Linked DNA regions of Homo sapiens: region 1 is linked to region 2. The links come from fine-mapping of genetic effects on gene expression. A gene starts in region 2. The other region holds a variant in brackets. All regions are shown on one strand. Distances are from middle to middle. Region 1 overlaps ACADSB (acyl-CoA dehydrogenase short/branched chain). Region 2 holds the start of ACADSB (acyl-CoA dehydrogenase short/branched chain).

Region 1 (5,320 bases), 29 kb after region 2:
TCACCTTTTTCTCCCCAGACAGGATCTCTGGAGCATAGTGGTGCAATCATGGCTCACTGCAGCCCCACCTCTGGGCTCAAGCTATCCTGCTTCAGCCTCCTGAATAGCTGGAAAAATATCACCTTATTATTCCTCTGGTCATGAATTGGGTCTACAATATGAAGTCACATATGACAGGATTGAAAGATATGTTCATCTAAATTTGTGATGAAGAAAAGCAATGCATATCCAATATTAAAACAACAGAATAAAAGGCTATGTAGTTAAAAGTGAAGACTCTCCCACCCATGTTCTCTAGTTCCCCAGTTCTTGCCACCTTGTTACCAGTTTCTTATATAGCCTTGCAGAGTTAGAAGTACATTTATATTCCACTTTTCTTTAGATAGTGGGTTTTCTTTTTCTTTCTTTCTTTCTTTTTTTTCTTTTTTTTTTTGAGATGGAGTCTCACTCTGACACCCAGGCTGGAGTGCAGTGGCGCAATCTCGGCTCACAGCAACCTTTGCCTCCTGGGTTCAAGCAATTCTCCTGCCTCAGCCTCCTGAGTAGCTGGGACTACAGGCACGTGCCACCACGCCTGGCTAGTTTTTTTGTATTTTGTTTTTTAGTACAGACGTGGTTTCACCGTGTTAGTCAGGATGGTCTCGATCTCCTGACCTCATGATCTGCCCTCCTTGGCCTCCCAAAGTGCTGGGATTACAGGCGTGAGCCACCATGCCCAGCCTAGATAGTGGGTTTTCATACTTTACGTGGAATTTCAATTTTACCTTTATCTATGAAACACCTGTGGTTGAAACACGGAGCCCAAATGAAGCAGAAGTTGTATACCACTAAACCTTAAAGCAGTTTGCATTCATTTATTTATGGGTATAGATATAGGTGTAAAATTATGATATATTTAAAAATCCATAGCAGAACATCAGAATGTTGTTCTTAGAGAATATGGATGTTAAGTGTATTCGTTTTCTATTGCTTGGTATTGAATCACTACAAACTTAACAAGTTAAAACAGCACCGGTGTAGTGGCTCACAGTTCTGTAGGCCAGAAGTCCAGCTGGAGCAAGTCCAGGCGCAGGGTCTCAGAAGGTCAACATCAGTGTGTCAGTTGGGCTGTGTTTTCGTCCAGAGCTCAGGGTCCTTCCAAGCTCCCGTGGTTGTGTCAGTACGCAGTTCTTTGCTGTTGCAGGGCTGAGGTCTTGTTGCCCAGCTGGCTGTCAGCCAGAGGTTGTCCCCAACTCCTGGAGGCCTCTGTATTCCTTGCCATGTGGCTCCCTCCATCTTCAAAACCAGTAACTCTCCCTCCCAGCATCGAGTCTCTCTCATCCTTAAAACCTGTTTCACCAGAAAGAGCCCCACCTTTTTTAAGGGCTCACCTGATTAGGTCAGGCCCACCAATCTCCATGTTTTAAGTTCAGCTGATTTGGAAGCTTAATTGTAAAATCCCTTCACAGCAGCACTTAGATTCATGTTTGAATAACTGAGAGAGGACATGTATACACCAGCGGCTGGGAATCTTGGCACTGTCTTAGAACTCTGTCACAATAAGTAAATTTCTTTTCTTTCTTTTTTTTTTGAAAGGGAGTTTTGCTCTTTTTGCCCATGTTGGAATGCAATGGCACTATCTCGGCTCACTGCAACCTCTGCCTCCTGGGTTCAAGCAATTCTCCTGCCTCAGCCTCCCAAGTAGCTGAGATTACAGGCGTGTGCCACCACGCCCAGCTAATTTTGTACTTTTAGTAGACATAGGGTTTCACCATGTTAGCCAGGCTGGTCTCGAACTCCTGACCTCAGGTGATCCACCAACCTCGGCCTCTCAAAGTGTTGGGATTACAGGCATGAGCCACTGCGCCCAGCTAGTAAATTTCTTTTCCTTTGCTCCCTCGCCTTTTAGATATGGTCTCAGGGAAGTGAGTTTGGGATAGCTAAGGAAAAACAAGAGTGAGTGGTTAGTTTACATAAATCAAAGAATTTGCTTAGAGTATCTTGATTCTCTGTCTTCAGTCTTATTTATTTCTTTAGTATCCACCTAGTCTAAGCACAGAAGCAATAAAGATGGGCAAGAAAAAAATCACTGCTTTTAAGGAACTCAGAATCTAGTGGCAAAGACAGTCGAATAAAGGAAATAGTTTCAGAATAACATGGTAAATGTCATGGAGGTATTTGGGGAACAAAGCAGAGAACACCTAGACTTTGCTAGGCGTGGCAGAAGTGGGCTAAGGAAGCAGTCAGGAAAGGCTTCCCAGAGAGTGTGGAGCTTGAGCTGTACCATGAAGGACAAAGTGCAGTTGGCCAGCTGGACAAGGGAAGGGAAGAGATTCTACATAATGAGAGTCGCGTGTGCAGAAACGAAGGAATACTGAAGCAAGCCACATGCACTGAACCCGGTTGCCTTCTCTACCGACTTGGTATTACATTGGTAGTAAACTTAAGAAGGTGTTTTCATCAAAATGATTTATAAATGCATCTAAGTCTTAAAAACATTAAAAAATGAAACAGCGGTTTTCAGTGGGGGCAAGTTTGCCCCCAGCGGACATTTAGCAACATTTAGAGACATTTTTGATTGCCACAACTTAGAAGTAGGGGACGCTCCTGGCAGCTAGTGGGGCCGTGGCCGGGCTGCTGCTCAACATCCTGCAATGCACAGGACAGCCCCACAACAAAGACTCACCTGCCCCAAAATGTCAATAGTGCCAAGGTGGGGAAACCCTGTTCTGTATGACCAAGCAGCTATGAAAACGACCAGGTTAGATGGGATATGCTGACATAGAAAGATCATCAAGATATAGTTGAGGGGAAGCAAGGCACACACCAGTGTGTATCTCATGATTCCTTTGTGTGAACATGTATGTGTACAGTTAAGTATAGATGATTTTCAAAGAAAAGTTTTCAGAAAGAATACATAATAAATTTAAAATTAGTCACCTTTGGGTAGAGTGGAAATG[G/A]CTTTCATTTTTCATTTTGTGCTTTCTTTATTGCTTGTGTTTTTGCACCATCTACACATATCATTTATTTTGTGAGGTCATCAAGAGTTACAAAGGGATATGGGAAACTACACCTTTCTATGTTAAAAAGAAAACTTTATAAATTCTATTTTAAAAATATAAGAAGGGTACCTGTGTATATTTTAACTTAGTTAAAATGTAAAATTTTGTCAGCAAACTATTAATGTGACTGTCACTTTAACATAGACTTATCAGTAATTCTTTTTCCTACAGTTAAAAAATTTGCTCAGGAACAAATTGCACCTTTGGTTTCAACCATGGATGAAAATTCGAAAATGGAGAAATCAGTAATACAAGGATTATTTCAACAAGGGGTACATTTCATAATTCTTCCACTTTCAAGCTTCTATAATTAAATTCAGGGACTGTAATGATAGCATAATGAACCCTGCATTTCCCAGTCAAAATTATCTGTTTTCTTTTTTTGGTTGAAATCCTACTTGATATTTATGTACTTAAAAGTTCTTAAAAATGGAATTAACATTTTTTAATTTGAAATACTGTATATTTTAAGGAAAAGTTTGGAAGTAAGATGGTAATTTATTTGTATCTTTAGACCAGCGGTTCTCAAATGGGGGCAGTTTTGCCCTCCAGGGGACATTGGGCAACGTCTAGGGACATCTTTGGTTGCCACAGCTAAGGCGTGCTACTGGCATCTAGTGGGATAGAGACAAGGGATGCCACTCAACATCCTGTAGTGCACAGGACAACTGCCACAACAAAGAATTATCCAACCCAATGCCACCATGAAGAAACCCTACTTTAGATAGTGAAACTTCATAGCATAGTTTATATTCTACCTGAAGCTCTATATAAGTGATAAACTTAGAAGCAGAGGTGATACATGAATTCCACATAAACCGGGCAACAGATTCCCATCTTCTCAAGTCACATAGCTCTTTAATGGAAATACAACGTATGAAATAGATACAAGTAAAACCGCTCTCACTGTGAGTAGGGGGAGGGGCTATTAGCATAGGGGCTTCTAGAAGAACATTTTAAAAATCACTGCACGCATCATTTCTCACTTCCGCAGAGGTATAAAATATATTTTTTTTAATTTTTAATACTAAAGATGTCCCAGAACAAGTGGCTGCTATTCAGAGCCATTGGCCTAAATCTTGTCTGCCATCTGGTTTGAAAAATAACCATTGCCACTTAGCTAGATAGTTTTATTTATTTCTGTTTTAAAGCAACCAGCTTTTTTATACCGTGTGTAGTAGTGATTCTTCCATCTTTCTTTTAGCAGTCAAACTCTTAGGAAACTGGAATCTTATGTGGAACCATAGTGGTCAAACAGGAGGCCGATGTGGAGAACAGATGGACTCTGTGAGTCCATTTCTCAGCCAGGTTTTATTTCTATTGCTTGCAGACCCTCTAGGCTTCTGGGAGCAGTCTCACGGTTTCACAGTGTGAGATCTCCCCCGCGGTGGTCGTTCCTGCAGCGGGGCTGTCTGCAGAGTGATGCATTGCCTGCACCCTGCTACTCATCTCCACAAACCACTCCTGTGCAGATGCAGCCTCACCTGCCTCCTCACTCCCATTGTCCTGGGTTTTTGGCATAATGGCTTGCAAAAACACTATTTCCACGTTGGGAGAGATTAGTGACTTTTTTAGAGAAGCAATGTCTCTGATATCTGTTCGAGTCATTGTAATGAGGTTTCCGGAGTGCCCTCCTCAGTTCTCAGGCAAACCCAGATCCTTCCGTTCTTCCTCGTTTCTGGTTTTCTCACCATTCAGTCGCTCGCATTTCTGGTTCCCTTTTCCTGTTGTAGCCCAAAATGTAACAGCCACAGCCCTGACTGCAGCATAGTGTGACTCCAGGAATGTCTAGAGAGAGACTAAGAGAATTATCCTTCTGTTAGCAGCTGTGGGTTTTGAATTACACATGCACACATTCTCTTTGTGAAATTGAGAGTACTATGTGAGTTTCAGTAACGATGGAACTGGGTCGTTGGAAAGGCTTGGCTGGCACTGGTCGTGTTTACCAGGCCCTCGTGCTTTGGCTAGTGTGGCTCTAGCAAACACCACCACATGTTCTCTGCTAACCATCCTGAACTTATGAAGTGGCGTAAAAGGAATGGTCATTCAATTATTAACTTGGCTGAAAAAGTCAAGGTGAAAGAGCCTGACTAGAAGAAACTTTGCCAAATGAAACTATAGACATCCCATTGAGGAGTAGGTTATTTTCTTCTGTTTCCTTATTACATTGAAATCAGCATAAGGTGGGTAGGGCATGTTGAAAAATCAAAACCCCACCTACCTGCTTTAAGCAGGCAACAACAGTTCTTAGCAAGAAAGGTCATCTAAGTATATAAGAT
Region 2 (5,381 bases):
GTGAAGTCCTCTAAATGGGATTAGTGCCTTGTGAAGAGATCCAGAGATCTTGCTTCCTCTCTGCTCTTTGCCATGAGAGGATACAATCAGAAAGCAAGCCCTCCCCAGATACCTGATCTGCTGGCACCTTCATATTAAGATTTCCCAGCCTCCAGAACTGTGAGAAATAAATGTTTGTTTAAACCACTCAGTCTATGGTAATTCGTTACAGCAACCTGAACTAAGATATCTAATCATATCAACCAAAGAGAACAATATCCCCATACTTTATGATGATTGTTCCTTATGATATAGCAAAATTCCCAAATCCTTCCTGTGATTATTCTGATTAAAGTTAAGTTGAATATAGTATGGAATTCCATGGGGTGTAGGTGGATATCTATATAGAAACTGGCTAGGGTATACCTAAAGTATTGTCATGCCAGTAGCGTCCCCCAATTTATTATTCAAGGCTCAAAATCAATGCTTTCAGAAAACAACCAGAGGCTATGCAAGCCGGTAGGGGGAAAAGAGGTATAAGAGAATTAAGCTTTGATATCCCAAAGAACAGGAAAACCTCTACCTCAAGTAGGTAATTTAGGCTAATTTCCGATCTTCCTTGGTTTCTGATAAAGGATTTATTTTGTATGAAGTCGTCTGATCTTTCTTCTTCAGTCTCATAAATGGGAAGCTGTTGATCAATGCAAGCATATATACAAGCACACACACACAATTACATGTGTGTATATATGTGCACCCCCCCCAGCCTCTTAACCAGTAGCTAATAATTTAAAACACAGGCACTGAAATGCAAATTAGAAGGCATTCACAACTATGAAACAACCAGAGAAGAAGCTCTCTAACCTATCTTCCTTCTTCCTTCTATCTTTTTTATAAACTGTGGGAGAATTTTGAGAACATGATTAGGGAACAGCAGGATATGTTTCGTTCACCTAGCATTCATGAGAAGTCTTACTTCTCATAGGTAACCATAAGGAAGAATACAATATTAGCAACTAATTTACTTACATAATAATTTATGGGTAAGGCAGGCCTATACACATAAAGTGATTACAGTTCAATAGATGTGTTTACCCTCCATAGCCTAATAATTATGGTCACTGAGATTTACTCTGCTATAGAACACATATAAACAGACAACGTTGACAAATAAGGATTGGTTTCTATGGAGTAACATGGGCCTTCCAAAATAATTGGAACACAATTCCTGATTTCAGAACTGTCAAAAACTCTTGAAGGCAAAAAAAGAAATTATGAGGCTCTGAGAAATCAGAAATCAAAACATAAAAATAAAACATAAGTAAAACCATGTTGAAAGAAATCCAGAAGAGAAATTATACAATCTAACCTTTTCACCCCAAATCTGTTCCTCCTTTTTCTTGCCACTCCAACATTGATGAAATGTAGAGTAATTGAAATTTACTTCGGAGATACAGCAAGGGACTCCAAAAGGCCATGGAGAGAGAATTTCAACTAAAATTGAAAAGCCATACAGAGGTCTGCATAAAAAACAAACAGCACACCACAAATCAAAACCTTTAAGATAAAAACTTAATTAGCATCTACAGGTTGAATGAGCTAGTAACTTATGCCAATCTTATCATTACATTAGCTGAAAAGAAAACGAACTGACAGATTAATCAAAGAACAAAGCAGTAGCTTCACTTCAGCAAAAGCTCCATAGGATCACCAAAGAATAACTGGTGTGACTACCGTTTTCTCACTGGTGGATTAGTTTTTGGCAAGATTTTTAATGTCTAAATTTAAGTTAAACTTCAGTTTAAAGAAATTAAGATTAACTTCATTTAGTCACAGCACACTTCCAAAACGGTCAAGCTTAGTACTGCTGAACAGCTGTAGTTGCATAAAAACAACGCATAGTCCTAAGTAGGGAAATGGGAAAGGGCTTTAAATACAAAAACAAAAAAAACATGCACACCCGATAAGGGCACATCTGAATCCCATCCTTCTTATCCTATCATAACACAAAACAGCTACGGTTTTCTGGGAAACATCCTGGACCGCTAGGGGAAAATAACACCAGACATTTCAATTCACTGTAACGAACTCTCATCAATAATAATAACCTTTAGCTGTTGTGACAACACGACATAAATCAAAATTAAATTGAATTTTTAAAATTGTTAGTTCCTACGTTTAAAAAAAAGTTGTTTTAAATACATTCTGTTCTTTCAAAACTGAATTTCCTCAGATCACACAATTTAAGACGCCTTTATGTCTTCTTCCGCTTGTCACACGTCTTTCGGGTTCTGACCAGCACATCAAGGGGACTCTAAGCAGGCCACGTGGTTAGTGTTTGCTAGAACTTGTTTAGCTTCAGATCCAGTCATCGAGCATGCTAGGCTTGGCTACTCGCGCTCCACACAGTTTATCCAAAGATCTAAACCCCGAATGAACCTGAATAGTTATTTGCTACAATGTCTTTCTCAAATCTCACATGTTCCTAAAATAAGGGTGCCCATGCAGTAGAGACGGATCCGGGCAGGATCATTAGATAAAATACGAAGGCTTTAAACGTCCTTCTCCCAACAATCAGCCTGGGACCGGCGTCGGGGCAGCAGCCTCACCAAGATTCGGAGCGACATCCTCGCCAGGATTCGAAACACCTAGGAGACCCGCGCCCGGCTGACTCCCAGCCCCTGGGACCCCGTGAAGACGCAAACCTCGGGACGCCTCCCGCAGAACCACCTGTCAGAGCCAAGCAACAGTCCCCGCCCCGGAGCCTCCGAGCTCCTGCTCGAAGGCAATGACAGCAGGAGACCCCGCTCCCTCGGGGTTCTCGCGGCCATAGGCGCCGCAGTCCACTGCCCTCCGGCTAAAGAGGTCCCGGGCCATCACCTGCCCGCCTACCGACCACGCCCGACCCTCCACTGAACTGAGTCTCCGTCCGGATCAGCCGGCCCGCCACGAACCCAGCTCCAGTCTCCGGCCGCTCCTTCTTATCCGCCCTGTCCTGCCGCGTCGCCGCCGTCCGAGCCGGCAGCCTGCTACTTACCTCCTGACAACTGCATGGAGTAAACCACACCGCCTTGTTAAATGCCGTCGCCGCCGCCGCCGTCTTCGTCACCGTCACAGTCGCCGCCGCCATCTTTGTTGTGTCTCCGACTCCCTTCCCGCCCCCCTGCCTTGCTCAAGTCTCGCGTGAGCAGGATGGAGGGCGAAAGCGAGGAGGGGCCTGTTTGTCTCTCTTGGGGTTCCGTAGGCAGCAGGGGGCAGGGATTAAGGGGGGGTGTGTGCGGGGCGGGTACTGAGTGGGCGGGGCCTTGCTCGGGTAACTCCCAGGGGCTGGCTAGAGACCCAGAGGCGCAGAGCGGAGAGGCCTGCGGCGAGGATGGAGGGCCTGGCAGTGCGGTTGCTGCGCGGCAGCAGGCTGGTGAGTGCGTTCGAGGCTGGCGTCCTGGGGGCCCAGGGCGACCTTGGCCCCTGGAATCGCAGCTGGCAGAGCCTTCTAACGGGCCTCGGGGCGCCGGCCTGAGCCCCGCTCCACGTCCTGGGTCCCCAGACTCTTTACCCGCGGGCAGTCTATGACCCCGACCCCCTTCAGGCCTCTGGTGGAGGCAGCTGGTGGCAAGGGGGTCGGGGCTGTCTAGAAGCTGCTTTGGCGGAGCAAGTACCTTGAGTGGAGTCGGAGGGTCGCGTCCGCAAGATGTCCTTTGCAGGCCGTTGCGTCCTGAGAGCCACCGAGTCTGGATCTCTGGATCTCTGGATGCATTTTGCACAGATGTCACCTCCCTGATGCCCTAACGCACCTTTCCCGAGTGATTACATTTCACACCCCCTCCCCCAAAAAAGATAGTTAAAATATAGGCCCAGTCTCATTCTGAGCAGGTGTCTCCCTGTCCTTCCTTCCGCGGCCCCGCTCAAAGGTAGTAAGGGACTTCGGAGTTGTTCGGGCTTCCCGGCCAGGGACAGAGTTCCCTCTGCCCCTTATCTCATGTCTGGAGCCTGGGTATCTTCCGTGGATAGACTCACCGCCGCCCAGGGGAGCCGGAGCCGGTGCCGGTCCCTCTTCCATGAACTTAAGCTGAAACCAGCCTCTTGTTGTGCTTAATTCTTATCTGTGCACCCACACAAACTGTTAACAGCCCCTGTGTTAACATCCTATGCTCTTCACCCCTTGGACCTATTATATAGCATGCTTTTCAGAACATACACATTTGGATACACTTGTATTTGTCAGTACACTTCACTGGGAATTTTCCCACTGCTTACGTGTGCTTTTAATGTTTCCTTTGCATTTGCTTTAATGAGTTAGGCTTTCCAACTGCTGCTTCAGTCTTATGCCCAGAGGCAGAACTCTGACCCTTTTTCTTATTAGAGATAATTAATGTTATTTGACTGTTTTACAGGCCTGAAGTGCAATAAAAAACAGTAAGTGATTATTGTTTAATACTGTTTATAATTGTTGGTTAATAACTTAGCAAAGAAAATTTCTTTGGTTTTACAATTTGACTCTGTTTTAGAGCCAAAATTTATTGACCGCATACTCTGTGGTAGGCACGTTCTCGTTCTACCTGAGTCATCTCAATTCTCACAACCATCTTAACAAGTAGTTTAATCTTGCAGATGCTGAAAAAGAATAATAGCTTGCCCACAGATAGAAAGGGATAGAGCTGGTGGTATTCGAACTCTGGTCTGATTCTAAACTTAACCTTCATATACTACTGTCTCCCCGTCCTTAGAGATATCAAAAACCTATTTTGTTTGAACTTTTGGTTTATTGTGGCTTATAGTCCTTTATAGTTTTTGAAGCTCTTTTACATAAATTAGCTAAATTGATTGAACATCGACTGTAGCATAGTGGTTAAGAACGTAGGTTCTGTAGCTAGGCTGCTTGGATCTGAACCCAGGCCCTCTCACTTCCTAGTGGTATAACCTTGGACAGGTTATGCTTTGGGTCTCAGTTTCCTGGTCTGTAAATGGAGAGAATAATTGTGCGTATTCCAAAATTGTTGTGAAAATTAAATGAGCTCATATGTTCATGTAAGGCACTTAGAATAGTGCTCGGAATGTAGTCAGCTCTCGGTAAATATCAGCTCTTACTGCCATGCACGAAGCATTGTGTGCTATGCCAGATGTAATAATGAATAAAATACTCTACCTCCAAGAAGTTTATCTTTTAGAGGAAAGGTTAGAACTATGTGCAACTAACCCCATGTCATGTAGGTGTGGAACAAATCCTAAGGGGCTACAGTCTGCGTGCAGATTCAGAAGATAGAAATGACTAGGACCATTGGGGAAGTGATAGGCTCTTTGGAAGCTGGGTTAGAGTTTAGGAGGGGAAAGGAGTGGTCAGAAAACTGCAACAAAAGGGGACTGAGGCCACTTTAGGGAATTGGGGGTTGATCCTTTTGGATTGT

The links. PIP is the estimated chance that this variant, and not a neighbour inherited with it, causes the effect. A credible set is the group of variants that fine-mapping cannot tell apart.
Region 1: its variant is the best candidate, but not a certain one, in a credible set for the expression of ACADSB in skeletal muscle (GTEx, PIP 0.56).

What each region holds. Positions count from the first base shown.
Region 1 is chr10:123,034,535-123,039,854 of GRCh38, forward strand. It overlaps ACADSB (acyl-CoA dehydrogenase short/branched chain), which reads left to right. Exons shown (of 11, transcript NM_001609.4): 3 at 3,213-3,313. Among named protein-coding and RNA genes, the nearest start is that of ACADSB, 28 kb to the left of the region's middle. The variant G/A (reference allele first, on the strand shown) is at 2,940.
Region 2 is chr10:123,005,678-123,011,058 of GRCh38, forward strand. ACADSB (acyl-CoA dehydrogenase short/branched chain) reads left to right here and starts at 3,329. Exons shown (of 11, transcript NM_001609.4): 1 at 3,329-3,394. The coding sequence starts at 3,353. It overlaps IKZF5 (IKAROS family zinc finger 5), which reads right to left and starts at 3,118. Exons shown (of 5, transcript NM_001372123.1): 1 at 3,017-3,118; 2 at 1,349-1,499. RefSeq lists enhancers at 2,395-2,624, 2,905-3,234.